Linked DNA regions of Homo sapiens: region 1 is linked to region 2. A link means that fine-mapping ties the variant in region 2 to the expression of a gene that starts in the linked region. Tissue or cell type: liver. Region 2 holds a variant in brackets; the other region holds the start of a gene. All regions are shown on one strand. Distances are between the middles of the regions.

Region 1 (7,196 bases), 360 kb after region 2:
CCTGCCCAGGTACGTGCTGTACCTGCTGCTGGCCGCGCTGGTGGTGGTGGCCGTCGCCTACGCCATCGTCGGGCACCTCATCAAAGACCTCGCCCACGACCTGGCCGGTGAGCTGCCCCCACCGAAACCCAGCTGGGGCCGATGCTGGGTCACCCTGGGTGGGTGGTCAGGGGATCCTAGTGCTTCTCCTAGCTGAGGAGGGGACAGAGGAGGGTGGCCGGGGCCGGGGAGTTGCCTCACCAGCTCCCTTGCCGCAGACTGGGCGTTTGGCCCGAAGCCAGACCAGGAGGCCGCACCCCGGGAGCTGCGCCCCAGCCTGACCGGCGAGGACTTGGAGGGGCTGGACCTGCAGCTGGCCCTGGCCTGGCAGGGCGAGGAGGACGCCGGCGGGGGTGGGGAGGGAGCCCCCTCTGAACCCCCGCCTCCCCCGGAGCCCCGCCGCCCCTCCATTGCCTTCAAGGACCCCCCATCCCGAAGCTCCTTCTGGAAGCTGATGGCAACTTGAATCCTGAATCCGGGTTCCGGACGCTTTGGCGGTCGTGTAGACAGAACTTACGCGCGCCGGAGCCCTTTCTGCAAACCCTGAGCTGCCCGGTCGCAGCGGACGGCTTTCTCCTTCCCAGCCGGCAGGTTCCGGGGGTTGGACGCTGGCGACTTTCACATACGCAGAGCCTGCCCGGCTCAGCCTCAGCCAAGCCGTCAGCAAACTGTGAATTAGAAACACTAGGGCGATTTAAAACGTTGTAATATTATCGGCCAACCTTACCGAGTGCTTAGCGTGTACCTGCTGCTGTGCAGAGCAGGCTTTTTCTATGCAGTATCTCATTTAATCCTCCGAGGTAGGACTGATCGCCCCCACTTAACAGATGGGGAAACCGAGGCACGCAGTGATGAAGTGGCTTCGCCAAGGTCTCAGAGCACAGAGTGCTTTTCTCAGAAAAAGCCCAGACAACTGACTGACTTTGGAGGGCAGGATCTCCAAGGCGGGTCCTGCCCCCACCCCCTCTGCTGGGCTCCCCTACCTCCAAATCTTCTCCAGCCCCCGCCTCGGCTGCTGGGTTTGCTTGTCTCTGGGGGGTGGTCCTGACTTCCTAATCAGATCGAGAGCTCCCAGACAGCACCAAGGCCTCCTTCTCTTCCAAGCCCTGCACAAGACGGGATACACAGTCAGAGTTTAATAGATGCCTGCCTGGCTGGTTCAAGCAGACCTGTGGCCATCCTGGGGCTGGGATGTGTGAGCCCCATCCTGCTGAGTGGCCGGTCTGCTCAGCGGTCATCCGCAGACCTCCGGAAGAGAGGAAGTGACAGCGACTCAGCAGGCGCTCCATAAACACCTGTGCGATGACGCCGGGCCTTCCTACCACTCGTCTGGGCCATGGCTGCTCCCGTGTCAGCTGGGGCGGGGTCCCCCTTCGCCCGGGCAGGGCCCACTATCTAATCAGCCGAGGGACCAAGGTTGAGGACAGGAGAGCCTGGAGCCTGAGTCATCAACGCTCCCGGGCATCCCCACGTGAGAGCGTCCCGGTTTGCAGGTGGACCACGGGCATGTGGCCTCTGCACACCTTCCCTGTCCCTGTGTGCTCCCATGGCTGCTTGTGGGTCCTCAGGGGCCAAGAGCCTGGGCGAGGCAGGATAAGCTGGGGGCGAGGCAGACCCGGCTTCAAATCCCAGGTCAGACCTGCTGCGTGACCTTGACTTTCCTGGGCACAATGAGACCGGCACCATTTCACGGGGTGTTAAGAAAAGGAAATGCGATCTGTGAAATTGCCGAGCACGGAGCCTCATGTGTACTCTGAGAGCACAAAAGGTGACTCTCAAATTTGCTTTGAGAGACAAGGTCTTGTTCTGTTGCCCAGGCTGGAGTGCGGTGGTGCATGCAGTGGTGCAGTCGTAGCTCGCTGCAGCCTCGAACTCCTGGGCTCAAGCGATCCTCTCACCTCAGTCTCTTTGAGTAGCTGAGACTACAGGTGCAGGCCACCATGCTCAGCTAAGTTTTACATTTTTTATTTTAGAGACGGGAGGAGGTTGGTCTGGAACTCCTGGCCTCAAGCGATTCTCCCGCCTTAGCCTCCCAGAGTGCTGGGATTACAGGCGTGAGACACTGTACCCAGCCTTGGTAACTCTTTGTATTTCTAATTTTTTTTATTTCCTTTGAGACAGGGTCTTCCTCTGTCACCCAGGCTGGAGTGCGGTGGTGCGGCCATAACTGGCTGCAGCCTCAAACTCCTGGGCTCAAGTGATCCTCCCACTTCAGCACACCCTAGTAGCTGGGCCTGCAGGTGCCCGCCGCGCCTGGCTAATTTTTCTATTTTTGTAGAGGTAGGGCTTGACTAAGTTGCCCAGGTTAGGCTCAAGGATCTGCCCGCGTTGGCCTCTCAATGTAGTGGGATTACAGGTGTGAGGCACTGGGTGGGCGCACCCTTCTTAAGATATTCCAGTTGTATTTGTGAGTTCCCCCTGTGTCCAGAGTGGCACGGGGCCTGGGCCGGGACGGGAGGTCGCAGCCATCTCAGCTCAGCCCCTGCAGCAGGGATCACAAAGGGGTGGCCCTGAGGCTGATGGTCCCCAGGGCAGGGTGCAGGGAGGAGGGACTCCCTCAGTTAATTGTTACACAGGTCCAGAGTCTGGCCTCCCGGAGGGAGAGCGATGGGGCAGGAGCTGGCAGGGGAGGGGCAGGATGCCCAATCAGGTGGTGCCAGGGGCGGGCCCCGCTCCCAGGTCTCAGGCATCCCCCGCCCGGGGACCGCCTGTGCCTTATCACGGGGAGGCAGGGCCTCGCCCACACCAAACCTGTGGACGCCGACCCGGGACCGCCGCTGGCTGGCTGCTGGCTCACTCGACCGTCATGGAGACCCTGGGGGCCCTTCTGGTGCTGGAGTTTCTGCTCCTCTCCCCGGTGGAGGCCCAGCAGGGTAGGTGCAGGGGGGCGGGAGGGGGCGTCGCGGGATAGGGGAGTTGGTCAGGTGATCACCATCTCCCAATTTTCCATGGCGAGAAAAAGGAGAGGGGGCAGGAAGAAAAGGAAGAGTGGCTTGGAGGCCCTTCTCAACCCCCGCAGTACCGCCCGGCCTCCCTCTCGCTGGGCTCTGCCCTCCTCTGTAAGGGACCCCCCACCGCCCACCCGAGCCTTTCCCCTCTCCAGCCCTTCTGAGCACACCTGGCTGAACCCCCCGCCTTGAGCTCGGCCCCACTCTGAGCTCGGGCCTCCTTTACAAGCCCCTCCCCATCTGAGTCCCCGCCTCTTTTGTGAACCGCTCCTTCTCACTCCTCCTCCTTTATAAACCCCTCCCCGAGCCCCTCCTCCTCTGTAAGCCCCTCCCCTCTGGGCTCCTCCTTCTTTATAAGCCCCTCCCCCTGAGCCTCTGCCTCCTCTATAAGCCCCTCTCCCTCTGAGCCCCCTAGTTCACAAGCCTCTCCCCATCCGAGCCCCTTCCTCCTTTGTAAGCACCTCCTTCTCACTCTCCCTCCTTTATAAACCCCTCCCCGAGTCCCTCCTCCTCTGTAAGCCCCTCCCCTCTGAGCTCCTCCTTCTTTATAAGCCCCTCCCCCTGAGCCTCTGCCTCCTCTACAAGCCCCTCCCACTCTGAGCCCCCTAGTTCACAAGCCCCTCCCCATCTGAGCCTCTTCCTCCTCTGTAAGCCCCTCCTTCTCACTCATCCTTTATAGACCCCTCCCTGAGCCCCTCGTCTGTTGTAAGCCCCTCCCCTCTGAGCTCCTCCTTCTTTATAAGCCCCTCCTCCTGAGCCTCTGCCGCCTTTATAAGCCCCTCCCACTCTGAGACCCTCTCCCCTTATAAGCACCTCCCCTCTGAGCTCCTCCTTTATAAGCCCCTCCCTCTAAGCCTCTGCCTCCTTTTATAAGCTCCCCCCAACAGCTCCTCTGTTGTAAGCCCCAACCCCCCAGACTCTTCTTTATAAGCCCTCCCCATCTGAGCCACCTCCTCCTTCATAAGCCCCTCCCCTGAGCTTGTTCTCCTTTATAAACCCCACCCCTGAGCCACTCCTTTGTCATAAGCCCCGCCCTTCTGAGGTCCGCCTTTATAAGCCCCTCCCCCTGAGCCTCTGCCTGCATTATAAGCCCCGCCCCTTCTGAGCCCTCCTGATTTGTAAACTCCGTCCCCTCTAAGCCCCCCTTCTTTTATAAGCCCCTCCCCTCTCTGGGCCCCCAGGCTCCCTCCCACTCTGGTAAGGTACCCTCCCCCTCTCTAAACCCTCCCGACCCCCCTACGCCATCCAGGTCTCTGAAGCTCCGTCCCTTTCCAATACCCCCTCTGTCGGAGCACCCCCAGTGACCTTCTCTCTCTCCTTGCTAGGGTGGTGGGGGAAGGGGGTCTTCTGACCTTTTCTTCCTCTGAGTCGAACCTCCCCAACTTCCTGCAGCCACGGAGCATCGCCTGAAGCCGTGGCTGGTGGGCCTGGCTGCGGTAGTCGGCTTCCTGTTCATCGTCTATTTGGTCTTGCTGGCCAACCGCCTCTGGTGTTCCAAGGCCAGGTGGGTGCCCGCCCCCACCCCGCTGCCCCCACAGCCCTGCCCCCACCCCCAGCTTCCCAACCCTCTCTGGTACCCCCATCACCAGCCTCAAAGTCCGAAGGTCTCCCATTTCCCTGCTGCTCCTCCAACCTCTACTCTCAGAGCCCAGATCCCGGGCTTGCACCCGCCCGTCTCCCCAAGACAACGAGCCAGGCAGCCCAGCCCTTCCTTGCGTCCTGGGGTTCATGAGCCCCGGCTGGGAGGTTGGGACAGAGGCTGAGGCTGTCACACCGCTTCCTTCCCTTTACCGCCCCCTTTCTCCTCTCCCGCCCCCTTCCACCTTTCCCTTTATCTCTGCAGGGCTGAGGACGAGGAGGAGACCACGTTCAGAATGGAGTCCAACCTATACCAGGACCAGAGGTACTATGCGTGCGGATGCTGGGGGTCTGTGTGAACCCCTCCTCGGGGTGGGGGAATGGGTGTGCGCAGATGACCTTGCTGTCCTGAATCCTTCAAACACATTCCTGCCCTGGGATCTTCACCTTTCCTGTATCTTCTGGCAGCTCCTTCTCCTCCTCCAGTCCCTAGTCAGGGGTTTCCAGCCTGGCCACCAGCCTTCCTGACACTGTCCCCAGCCCCAAGTCTGATTCATGCTTATCACCAGTGGAGCTGTCTTAGTTGTTCACTAATTTTGAGACATTACGTGGTGCCTTCCAGTTGTGTAGGCAACTTAGCTTTTGTCCTGGCTGTGTCCTCATACCCAGCATTGGGCCTGGAACACAGGAGGTGCTTAATAAATACCTGTTGAAGAAGACTGTGGTGTAGGATTGTGTAGGTGTCTGTACAAGGCCTAGGTATGGGCGACCCACCTGGACTCAGTGCCTCCTATGGCTCTGACTGCCTCCCAACCTGAGGATTCCCACAGAGGACTCAGGGATGCAGACCTCCATCTTCCATCCACCCATCACCCACTCATCCACCCACTCACCCATTCATCCACTCACCCATTCACCCACTCACCCACCATCCATCCATCCATCATCCACTCATCCACCCACTCACCCATTCACCCACTCACCCATCCACCCACTCACCCATTCACCCACTCACCCATCCATCCATCACCCACCATCCATCCATCACCCACCATCCATCCATCCATCACCCACCCATCCACCCACTCACCCATCCACCCACTCACCCATTCACCCACTCACCTATCCACCCACTCACCCATCCACCCACTCACCCATCCATCACCCATTCACCCACTCACCCATCCACCCACTCACCCATCTACCCACTCACCCATCCATCCATCACCCACCATCCATCCATCCATCATCCATCCATCCATCATCCATTCATCACCCATCTGTTCACTCACCCAGCTGCCCACCCACCCATCTATTCACCTACCACTTATCCACCCACTCACCCATCCATTCATCACCCCCCATCCATTCATCACCCATCCACCCATCACCTACCCATCCACCCACCCACCATCCATCCACCCACCATCTGTCTATCATCCATCCATCCATCCATCCATCCATCCATCCATCCACTCACCCATCCCCCAACCCATCCATTCACCAACCCGTCCACCCACTCACCCATCCATTCATCACTCATCCATCCATCACCCACCCCCATCCATTCATCACCTACCCATCCACCCACCCACCATCCATCCACCGACCATCCATGATCCATCCATCCATCCATCCATCCATCCATCCATCACCCATCTATTCACTCACCCACCCCCCGACCTATCCATTCACCAATCCATCCACCCACTCACCCATCCACCCACCCACTCATCTGTTCACACACCCATCCATCTACCCACCCATCTATCCATCAGCCATCCATTCACCATCCATCCACCCACCCATCTATTCATCCACCCATCAATCCATCATCCATCCACCCACCCACCCATCCACCCATCCATCCATCCATCCATCCATCCATCACCTATCCATCCATCACCCATCTATTCACTCATTCATCCACCCACACAGCCATCCATCCACCTACCCATTTATCCATCCATCCATCCTTCCATCCATCCATCCATCCATCCATCCAGGGCTGGGGGCTCTGTCTTGGGCAAAGGCTTGGGGACAGGAGTAGGAGAGTGGGAGCTGGGAGGTGACCAGCCTGGCTGGGAGAGTCTCAGCTGAGTCCAAGATGTGCCTGAGGGAGAGGACCTGAGTGGTGGCTTTGTCTAAGACCTGGCTCAGCCCCAGTAAAATATGATTCCTACTCCCAGGATGTACTGGGGGATCTGGATCCCACCTGTGCACCTGTACCTGTAGCTTCCTTTCTGCCTTGTTCAATCCTCCATCCATCCACCCAACCATCCACTTGTACATCCATCTATCAGTCTGCCCGTGCAGTCCTCACCCTCCAACCACCCATCCATCAGTCCACCTACCCATTAGCCCATTGATCTGTCCACTCACTGATACACGCACCCACCCACCTATGCGTCCATCGAACTATGCAGTCTTCACTCTCCAACTGTCCATCCATCAGTCTATCTATCCATTAGCTCATTGATCCATCCACCCACCTACAGTCTCATTCATCCTCCATCTACCTATCCATTGGTATGTCATTCTCTTCTTCCTCCAATTCATCCATTCATCTACTTATTAATCTGTCCCTCCCTCCATGCAACCATCAATTCACCCAACTGCTTATCTACTCAT
Region 2 (5,000 bases):
ATGGTGTTCATCAAGTTCCACAGTCATGGTGTTCATCAAGTTCCACAGTCACGGTGTTCATCGAGTGTCACAGTCATGGTGTTCATCGAGTGTCATGGTCATGGTGTTCATCGGGTGTCTGTGTCATGGTGTCCATCAAGTGTCCACAGTCATGGTGTTCATGAATGTCCAGCATGTGGACACTCAGGACAAGTGTGTGAAAATGCTAGAGGAATGAATGCTTGAAGCCAGGAGGCAAAGGTTGCAGTGAGCCGAGATTGCACCACTGCACTCCAACCTGGGTGACAGAGTGAGACTCTGTCTCAAAAAATAAAAAAAAGCTGTAACTTTCATGAGGTTTTCCTGTGCCGCAGAGAATGTCTCCTTGTCCCCGGCCCTGACACTGCGGATGACTCACCTGGCTGGCAGGAGTCTACAGCAGGGCCCGGTTGGGGGCCAGGTGGTGTAGAGCCTCTTTGCCTTCTAATCCATTTTCCCCAAAATGACCCTCATACCTTGCTCCTTCCCCTATGGGGTTGGAGGTTCACTTTTTAATATATATCCATAGCGGTATTGGGCTAAAATCTTTACTGATACTTTTCCCTGGCAAATGGGCTTTTAGACTCCAGAACTGTCTACTGGGTAGCTGATATTTAGCTGAACAAGGGGCATTGGGGTCAGAAAGATCTGGGTCTGAACCCTCCCCTGCACTTGACATGAGCCCCTGGTCCTCCTTGGAGGTTTTCTCGTCTAGACCGTGGGGAGCGATGGTGCCGCATGTCCTCTGAAGGGTGAATGAGGCCATGTGGACAAAGGCCTCGGCACTGTGCAAACCCTACAAAGACTCATTCTTTTTAGTGAAGAGTTATTAGTTTAGTGCTAACTAAAGTAATTATTTTAATACTCAGGTGGACTGACTTGTTCTGTTAAAAAAAATACAGTCAGAGCCTGGGCAACATAGTGAGACCCCACCTCTACCAAAATTTTTTAAAGAATTAACTGGGCATGGTTTCACACTTGTGTTCTCAGCTACTGAGAGGCTGAGGCAGGGTTGCTTGAGCTTGGGAAGTTGAGGCTGCAGTGGGCTGTGATCGTAGCACTGAACTTCAACCTGGGTGACAGAGCGAGACCCTTTCTCAAAAACAAATTTTTTTTTTAAAGAGAAAATACGGTTGGCCTTCCGCATTCATAGGCACTGCATCCATGGATTCAACCAGCCAAGGGTGGAAAATATTTGGGAAAAAAATGCATCTGTACTGAACATGTATGGGGTTTTTCCTTCTCATTGTTCCCTAAACAATGGAATGTAACAGCCATCGGCATAGTGCTTACATTGTATTAGGTATTATAAGTAATCCAGAGATGATTTACAGTATATGGGATGATATGTTTAGGTTATATGCAAACACTATATCGTTCTATGTCAGGGACTCAAGCATCCATGGATTTTGGCATCTGAGGGGGTCCTGGAACTCAACCCTTGCAGATAGTGAGGGACAGCTGTACTGTTTTTTGTTTTGTTTGTTTTGAGACAGAGTCTTACTCTGTTGCTCAGGCTGGAGTTCAGTGGTGAGATCATAGCTCACTGCAGCCTCTACTTCCTGGGCTCAAGCCATCCTCCCACCTCAGCCTCCTGAGTAGCTGGCACTGCAGGCGTGTACTATCACACTCGCTAATTGTTTGTTTTTTTTTAATTTTGGTGGAGACAAGGTCTCATTATGTTGTCCAGGTTGGTCTCAAACACCTGAGCTCAAGCAATCCTCCCGCCTTGGCCTCCCAAGGTGCTGGGATTACAGGCATGAGCTACCACACCCGGCCAGACACTGTGCTGTTAAAGTTCAATTTTCTGGCCGGGCGTGGTGGCTCACACCTGTAATCTCAGCACTTTGGGAGGCCGAGGCGGCCAGATCATGAGGTCAGGAGGTTGAGACCATCCTAGTTAACACGGTGAAATCCTGTCTCTACTAAAAATACAAAAAAAAAAAAAAAAGGCTGGGCGTGGTGGTGGGCGCCTGTAGTCCCAGCTACTCGGGAGGCTGAGGCAGGAGAATTGCTTGAACCTGGGAGGCGGAGGTTGCAGTGAGCTAAGATCGTGCCACTGCACTCCATCCTGGGCAACAGAGCGAGACCCTGTCTCAAAAAATAAAAAAGTTCAATTTTCTTTGAAGAATCTTGACATGGAGAAAAAGCCCTGCCACACAAGTAGATCATCTGCAAAGCGGAAGTCAGATGGGTTCGAGTCCCAGCTCTGCCACTGACAGTGCCTCAGTTTCTTCATCTGTAAATTGGGTGCAGTGATAGGCCCAGCATTACAGCGTTGTTGTGAGACGGTGTTAATTTGTGTAAAGTGCTTCCGGCCGTGCCTGGGCTCCTAGGAGGGTCTCCACCAAGCAGGGCAGCTCAGGTCCAGTGGTGGCTGGAATTGACACCGTCAACTCAGTGCACCTGAGAACTCGCTCTAACCTGGTGGGGCTTTGGTGTGTGTTTGTGGTTCTAGCGCCCAGCCTCCGACCCTTCCCCTGCCCACTGTGGGGGCCAGCTATACTGCACAACCCACTCCTGGGATGGACCCTGCCGTGAACCCGGCCTTTCCCCCAGCTGCCCCGGCAGGGTAC[G/A]GTGGATACCAGCCCCACTCCGGCCAGGACTTCGCCTACGGCAGCCGACCCCAGGAGCCCGTCCCCACGGCCACCACCATGGCTACCTACCAGGTATCCAGTCCTTTCTTTGACCAGCGTTGCCGGGAAACGTGGGTCGCCTTGCATGGGTGAGAGCGGTGGGCTTCCCACAGCTACTCCTTCTCCCAGGCCTCTTAACCGTGATCCTTCCTTCGGGACCCTTCTGCTGGCATTGCGTACCCGTGGTGGGGAGAAATCAGGGCAGAGTCGCTTCCGAAAGAATCCACTGCTCTCGGGGACAGGCCGCATGCGTACCTCCACGTCGGGGCAGTGGGGACAGTGACGGCGCACAGAGCTTTGTCCCAGCTTCAGCAGTGACTATGAAGGAGGAGGAGGGTCGCCTGGGTTACAGGACCCCTCCCTGGTCAGGGCAGATGGCCTCGGCCACCTGGGCCCAGAGAGACCAGGACTCACCCCACCTTCCCCACGCTCCAGATTCCTACCTTCTAAGAGGGAGTCTGTGGTGTGTGGGGTGCACCTGGGTGCTGACGACCTCACCTTCCCAACCGAGGCACTCAGGCTGCAGATCCAGCCACCGTGTTCCCACTTGGTGTCGCAAAGATGTCCCCCGTGACCATGCTCCAATTTCCCAGCTCTGCCACCCGCACCTCGTCCCCAGATTGTGTCGGTCAACGGCATCAGAGGCCACCCTGTCACTCAAGCTCAGCACCCACCTGACCCCACCCTCTTCCTCCCCTCTCCATTTCCTTGCCAAGGCCTCGGGGGCTTCTCCCTGCAAACCCGCCCTCTCCTGCCGCACCAAGCGTCCTCTTGTAAATTGCAGTCGAACTCTTGGAAATTAGTGTCGGCTCCATGACAGCTGCTGTGTCAACCACGCCCCCTGCCCCCTGCCCCCTGCCCCCTGCCCCCTGCCTCCGGGCCAGGGCCTGGTCCTGGGCAGACGCTTAGGAGCCAGCGCTGCAGGAAGGACTAAGTGCAGAGTGCAGTGTGGCAGGGCGCGTCGCACCCACCGCCTGAGCTGCTCTCCTCCGTTCTCTGTCTCTCTCCTGCCGAAACCCCCACATAGGACAGTTACAGCTACGGACAGTCAGCAGCTGCCAGGAGCTATGAGGACAGGCCGTACTTCCAGTCTGCTGCCCTCCAGTCTGGGCGCATGACAGCCGCAGACTCCGGCCAGCCAGGTGAGCCATCTGCAGGGTCGGGGCTGGGAACGAGGAGACGCTCCCCGCAGCACAGGGAAACCTTGGGAAACTTACTTTTTTTTTTTTTTAGACAGAGTCTCGCTCTGTTGCCCAGGCTGGAGTGCAGTGGTGCGATCTCGGCTCACTGCAAGCTTCGCCTCCCAGGTTAAAGCCATTCTCCTGCCTCAGCCTCCCGAGTAGCTGGGACTACAAGTGCCTGCAACCACGCCCGGCTAATTTTTTGTATTTTTAGTAGAGACGGGGTTTCACAGTATTAGCCAGGATGGTCTCCATCTCCTGACCTCGTGATCCGCCCGCCTTGGCCTCCCAAAGTGCTGCGATTACAGGCGTGAGCCACCATGCCCGGCCTGAAAGTTACATCTTTTCTTTTCTTTTCTTTTTTTTTTTTTTTTTTGAGACGGAGTCTCACTCTGTTGCCCAGGCTGGAGTGCAGTGGTGCGATCTCAGCTCACTGCACCCTCTGCCTCCCAGGTTCAAACAATCCTCCTGCCTCAGCCTCCCAAGTAGCTGGGACTGCAGGCACGCGCCACCATGCCTGGCTAATTTTTTTCTATTTTTAGTAGAAACGGGGTTTCACTATGTTAGCCAGGCTGGTCTTGAACTCCTGACATCAGGTGATCCACCTGCCTCGGCCTCCCAAAGTGCTGGGATTACAGGCGTGAGCCACTGCACCCCGTGAAAGTTACATGTTAACCATCCTAGAGGCCGGGCACGGTGGCTCACGCCTGTAATCCCAACACTTTGGGAGGCCCGAGGTGGGAGAATTGCTTGAACCTAGGAGTTCGAGACCAGCCTGGGCAACATAGTAAGACCCCCGTCTCTACAAAAAATGCAAAAAAATTAGCCAGGCATGGTGGTGTGCACCTGTAGTCCCAGCTACCCAGGAGGCTGAGGTAGGAGGTTCGCCTGAGCCCAGGAACTGAGCTGCAGTGAGCTGTGATCGCACCACTGCACTCCAGCCTGGGCAGCAGAGCAAGACCCTGTCTCTAAAAAATAAAAAATAAAAAAAAAAAACAAAATAAAGGCCGGGTGCAGCAGCTCACGCCTGTAATCCCAGCACTTTGCGAGGCAGAGGCGGGTGGATCACAAGGTCAAGCGATCGAGACCATCCTGGCCAACATGGTGAAACCCCATCTCTACTAAAAATAGAAAAATTAGCCGGGCAGGGTGGCGCATGCTTGTA

Evidence for each region. PIP is the estimated chance that this variant, and not a neighbour inherited with it, causes the effect.
Region 1: SMIM24 starts here. The variant in region 2 is fine-mapped to the expression of SMIM24 in liver (GTEx, PIP above 0.99).

Annotation. Positions count from the first base shown.
Region 1 is chr19:3,476,113-3,483,308 of GRCh38, reverse strand. It overlaps SMIM24 (small integral membrane protein 24), which reads left to right and starts at 2,784. Exons shown (of 4, transcript NM_001136503.2): 1 at 2,784-2,912; 2 at 4,380-4,491; 3 at 4,831-4,890. The coding sequence starts at 2,846. SMIM44 (small integral membrane protein 44) reads left to right here. Exons shown (of 2, transcript NM_001395954.1): 1 at 1-107; 2 at 258-1,199. The coding sequence ends at 505. LOC105372246 (a long non-coding RNA gene) reads right to left here and starts at 331. Exons shown (of 5, transcript XR_936264.2): 1 at 23-331. RefSeq lists an enhancer at 1-90.
Region 2 is chr19:3,832,460-3,837,459 of GRCh38, reverse strand. ZFR2 (zinc finger RNA binding protein 2) reads left to right here. Exons shown (of 19, transcript NM_015174.2): 2 at 2,477-2,687; 3 at 3,682-3,796. Among named protein-coding and RNA genes, the nearest start is that of ZFR2, 34 kb to the left of the region's middle. The variant G/A (reference allele first, on the strand shown) is at 2,595.